Linked DNA regions of Homo sapiens: region 2 is linked to region 1. The links come from fine-mapping of genetic effects on gene expression. Tissue or cell type: tibial artery. Region 1 holds a variant in brackets; the other region holds the start of a gene. All regions are shown on one strand. Distances are between the middles of the regions.

Region 1 (2,769 bases):
AGGGCATAACAAGATCCTCAAAACACGACCTTGGATTCAGGCGCACTGATAGCTGGAAATGTTCTTCATTTTCCAAGAGAAAAATATAGGACTCAGCAACAGAATTGGAGTGAAAATAAGAGGGTCAAATTTAATCCAGCAAATATTCTCAAAGGCTCCTGTCAGCCAGGCATTGTGCTAGGCACTGTGGGCCATGTACACATGAGAAAGACACCACCCCTACTGCCAAGAAATTCACGGCCTATGGGAGGCTACGAGCCTCCAGATGAATTTTCTATCACTCAAAATATAATTCACTAAGAGATCCACAGATAAAATGCTAAACAAGGTTAGATAAGGAAAGATCTCAAGAGGCAAAGTTCGGGAAAATCTCAGAATAAGTTGACTTTGAATTGAATCTTGAAGGATGGTTAGTATTAATAGTTTGTCAAGTGGAGGTGGTGAAGGGATAGAATCAGAAAATGGGAGAAAGAATAGTCAGTATAGCCAGGACATGATTATGAGCTTTGCTTTTATAAATGCCAAAGCTTTAATGAGAATTCAAAAATATCCAGGTTCCATTTCCAGTTTAACAGTTCACATCCCCAGTTCTAAAAACAGGGAATTTTATATGATGAAATTGAGTTTACACAAGGACACCAGACTTGGCTCTAAGATCCACCATGTCAACGTGGGCCATAAGAAAGACTGGAGGGAGTAGACTGGGAAGGGGTGGGTTTGGGGGCTTAAAATTAGAAGAGATTGGAAAGAAACACTGGAACGTTCCTATAAAGAGACCTAGGGCACCAAAACCTGATATTCTACAACACAGAACTCCGACATAATTTATATTTCCATGTTTCATGCCCTTTCCTCAATCAGTAGGGTCTTGAATATTGATTACAAACTCTTATGTCCAAATGCTAAAAAGGAGAAAAAGAGACATTATAGATTTAACGATAATTGTACATCTATAATCTACTCAATGTGGGTAACTTATGTTGTGTGTTTATTCCCTGGGAGACGTTGAAGTTCTTTGTCTGATATCCTAAATTTTCTTATAATAATTCATTCCATTTTGGTGAGCAGAGAAGGATACTTTTAAGATTTTTAGAATCATAAATCTAAATAGTAGTTTCTTGGTATGCAAGCAACCTCCAATGACTTGAAAAAGGAGTAAGTAGGCATAAAGGGAACACTTTGTCCTGTTGTGTTGTACATACTCCATGTTAAAAATATCTGATTGCATATTTTGCCTGATCA[G/A]TATGAAAACTACGCAAACTTTAGTGTTGGTTGGCAAAATACTTGTGCTTTGCTTACTTTTGCAAGTAATGGCATGCTTATCGTTGTTAAGAAGGCTTTCATATGATAAAGCTTTTAAAGCTGTGTAAATCAATAGATATTAGAATAATAATGAGAGTTTCAAAACTCACTAGAGCCAACACAAGCTGACCTAACCCATTACGGCCCAGAATAATGAACTAAAAAATCATTGCTGAGCTGCCCTCCAACAGAAAAAACAATTTGAAAAAAACAGGAAGTATTCATTTTCTATTAATGGACCCACTTTACTTGCAGATGCAGCTAGATAATGCATCAAAGCCAATTAGGGTTCCAGAAGGAGCGTCTTTACTAATAGAAGGGTCAAACTCTTATTGACAGAGTTGAACTTTAAGCAAGAAAATGTGTTCCTGGAAAGGCAAGTGGCATCTTGATTCTGCCACTTTGAATTTCTAGTTCTCATCTTTAGGGAGAAGGTTTTTCTTCTACGCCCAGTGTACTATAAAGACAGAGACATATGCAGCTACAAGGTTTAATCAGAAGCCAGGCAGGTGGATGGATAATGACTATTTCAATTTGTATCATTCCTTGAGTGCAGAATCATTTAAGTGGGAGAAGGGTCTAATTGCCTTTGAATAACTAGTTTCCAGTCAGCACTTTAAATAGCCCCTTTTTTTTCCAGAATCAAAATCCACACATGATTTAAATAGAGCCCACTTCAACCCAGCATTGCCCCAAATGATCATGTCGCATGAACTGCACAATTATTAATAGATTTCCACCTTCTCATTGAAGTTCTCATTTCTGATAACGGGACAGTATGTGGAAGTTTCCTGCATATCTAAGATGTAATTGCAATCACACTGTAGGGGTAAGGAGAGTCTTATGATGTTTCTCTCATAATCTCTCATGACCCCAACAGCAACCTTTACCCAGCTCTATCAATCATGATCTTTTCTCATCACTTGGATCAATAGTGAAGTTTTGGGAGTCCTTAACAATGAGATTTTCAATACATCCTCATGGATTGTCAAGAAATTACTTTATTTAAAAATCTCGTTTTCTGCTTAAGGGTATTTATGTATATAAATAATAACCTTATATATATAAATAAATAACTATATATATTATATAATATATAATATATATATTATATGTATATGGTTATTATATATATATAAAAACCATATATAAAAATAACCATATATAGATATACCTTCTAAGGTTAAAAACATAATTTTTTCAGAAAACTTACTGAATTGGAAGCAAGCCTATATCAGAGGGTTTATGGGAACTGTTGCTAAGGAAATACCTTAGCAATGTTCAAACTTTGATTTAAAGTTATCAGTGGTAAGTTAGGCATGCAGTCCCAGCTACTCCAGAGGCTGAGGCAGGAGAATTCCTTGAGCCCAGGAGTTCCAGGCTGCAGTGAGCTATGATCGTGCCACTGCACTCGCACTCCAGCCTGGGCAACAGAGCAAGATCCCATCTCTAATAAGTAAATATATA
Region 2 (2,769 bases), 82 kb before region 1:
AATTATCACTTTTAATCTCTAATACGACCAGCACAAGTAGCCTTTGTCTCCCCGCCCTGATTTGAGCATCCGAGGGCCCCCCGAGGCAGCCTGCACGGGTACCCCGGGGTTTGCGCACTGAGTGAACCCCCAGATTCGGCCGTGTCCCAGCCGTCCTTGCTCTGAATCCCCCACCTCCTCCCGGCCGTTTGGACGGTTCCCTCGGGGCGTCTGTGCCTCCGTGGGGTACCCCTAAGACACCCAGCATGAAACCCCAGCACCGACTGCAAATTCCACCGAAAGCAGAGTCATCCGTTTTTGCCCTCGGCAAACAACTCAACTTCAAGCCTCGAGTCCTTGCAAACCCACGCTGGCTGGGCTAACTCCGCTTCCCTTCTCCTTCCCCCGACTCCTGCAACAGCTCAGAGAGCCTGGCTCTGACGTAGTTCAAAATAACGTGCGCCAGCCTCGCTGCCCGGCTGACCACAGCAACGAGAGCCACAAGCCCTCGACGCTGCTTCGATAACATGAAGCAATCACTCATAAAAATAGCAACCCACGTAGCCTGGCCATATATGGAGCTGGCGAGGGTGGACGGGGATGCCCCTACGGACCCTCTTCGGAGAAAACAAATCGCCGCTGAAATTTCCCCCACCCCTCCCATCACTACCTTTTACCCCTCCTCTGCCTTCCCCTCTCCTTAGATGACTCAACCACAGATTCCACTGAAAGGGGGTGGGGGTGGGGGTGGGGGGGAATATATACACATACACACAAATTATACATATATTATACATGTATTATAAAATATACACACACATACATATATACATACACACACATATACACATATGTACACACACACGCACACACACCAAAGAACATCAGGAATGCAGTTGCGGGATGAACGCGTTTGCCCAAGACCGAGTGTTAAAATGGAGTCATAAGAGTCGCCCCGTGCGGGTGTTTATAGAAGGTGAAAACACGCAGGTTTGCAGGCCAGCGCACTGGGAACCGAGTCAAGCGCGCCGCAGCCCGGGCCCCGCCCCCGCCCCCGCCGTGCCCCGCCCCCACTTCCTCCCGCCCCTCGCTGGGCGGCTATTAAAAGCTGCTGACGTCAAAACGGACGGCCATCTTTGATGAGGGCAGAGCTCACGTTGCATTGAAGACGAAACCTCGGGGAGGTCAGGCGCTGTCTTTCCTTCCCTCCCTGCTCGGCGGCTCCACCACAGTTGCAACCTGCAGAGGCCCGGAGAACACAACCCTCCCGAGAAGCCCAGGTAAGAACCCCCCTCCCCAGGTCGTGGCTCTGGCTCGGGATGGCTGCATACCCAGAAGGGACAGCAGCTGGGCAGTCCGAGTGGGCTTGGGTAAATACAAGTATTGGTGCACTTAGGGTGCGGTATTCCGTGTGTGCACGTCTGGTGGGGGCTTTATAAAGTGTTTTCGAGGTGAGCTGCTGGGGAAAAGGGAAACGGGAGCCCTGCAAATGGAGCGACGGGGAGGAAGAGCGAGGGTACGTACCGAATAATAACTTACTCTTTTGAAACAGTAGTGGGACCCCCTCTTTCTTCCATTTTGCGATGCAGTTTTCAGAGATATTTAGGCTGTTGAGTTTTCCTCCCCTGTCGTTCTAACCCTATTATTATGACTGTTGTCGTTAGGGTGCTATTATCCAGGGAAGAATTAAGGGGGAGACAGGGTGTGGGTGCTGGGGAGGCGAAAGGAGAAAGGGGGAGTTCCCGCCCCGGGCAAGCTGAGCTGCTGCAGCGACAGCAGCCTCCATGCCCCGCGGACTTGATTTATGCCGCCTGCTCCACGTCAACTGCAGGCTGGCGGGAGGCGGGCGGGTCGTGCCGGGTGGGAGGGCTCTGCGGAGGGCTGGCGCGGGTGGGCTGGCTTCGGGGACTGCGGCGGCCCGCGCTCAGCACCCTGGATAGCAACACCGAGGGCTCGCGCGGGCGCCCTCGACCTTTCAGCACCGGGGACAGCGGTCCGGCCGCAGCGCCTCATCTGCCTGCGGCAGAAATGCCTGGCCGGGGCTGGATGTGCCAGGGCTGGAGACCAAATTGTCTCCCTGAGACCCCGGTCTTACGGAGACCCTTAATAGAGGAGTCATAGTAGCTTAAAAGAAAACAAGAAAGAAATAAATCTTCCTCACAGAGACTCCTTTGCAGACAATTTCCTGTTCCCCTCCTCACCTCCTGCATAGCTTCAACAAAATAGTCTACTTGTGGAAATCTTCTGTGTTGCCCTCTGACCCTTATTTTACGTAGAAAATAAATACATTTTTTAAAAAATATGGATTTATCCTCCAGCAGGGTATCAAGGTTTTTGTTTGGTTTTGTTTTTTAACACAGAGTAGATCTGTCTACAGATCTTGGGTGAGCATAAGTACTGTATATATGAAGAAGCCAATGCTATCTGTTTATAGGGATGATACATCTCTCTCTATGTTTCCATTTGATAAAAATGTGAGATTAGCTGAACTAAGCAGAATCAACTTTAAGAATGAATCACTCTTCCTTTTCCTTCTTCCCCCATCCTTGCAATCAGGCATGAATACAAGCATTCATCCACAAAAACACATATCTGAGAAATTTTACTGGTCCTGTACTGAATAGATTTAACCTCTTTGGCCACGGTTTCAGAGTTACTGGAAGTATTTGCTATCAGCACTGGTTATCGCAGGCTGATAGCTTTAGATTTTGACAATATTAAGACTGGCCTTCCTCAGGAGAATCCAAGTGTGTCCTTCAGGGTAATGCAGGTAAAGAACCATGGTGTTAA

Alleles and levels. Alleles are on the strand shown, and positions count from the first base shown. SD is a standard deviation of normalised expression in the study named.
For the expression in tibial artery of the gene that starts at base 1,112 in region 2, A is the low allele of the variant in region 1 and G is the other (large effect, 0.81 SD a copy in GTEx).

The links. PIP is the estimated chance that this variant, and not a neighbour inherited with it, causes the effect.
Region 2: it holds the start of SNAP25, and the variant in region 1 is fine-mapped to the expression of SNAP25 in tibial artery (GTEx, PIP above 0.99). The same link has a PIP of 0.9 or more in aorta.

Annotation. Positions count from the first base shown.
Region 1 is chr20:10,299,480-10,302,248 of GRCh38, forward strand. All of the region lies in intron 7 of SNAP25 (synaptosome associated protein 25), which reads left to right. Among named protein-coding and RNA genes, the nearest start is that of SNAP25-AS1, 81 kb to the left of the region's middle. RefSeq lists an enhancer at 1,017-1,934. The variant G/A (reference allele first, on the strand shown) is at 1,243.
Region 2 is chr20:10,217,719-10,220,487 of GRCh38, forward strand. SNAP25 (synaptosome associated protein 25) reads left to right here and starts at 1,112. Exons shown (of 8, transcript NM_130811.4): 1 at 1,112-1,259. It overlaps SNAP25-AS1 (SNAP25 antisense RNA 1), which reads right to left and starts at 1,788. Exons shown (of 5, transcript NR_040710.1): 1 at 1,519-1,788.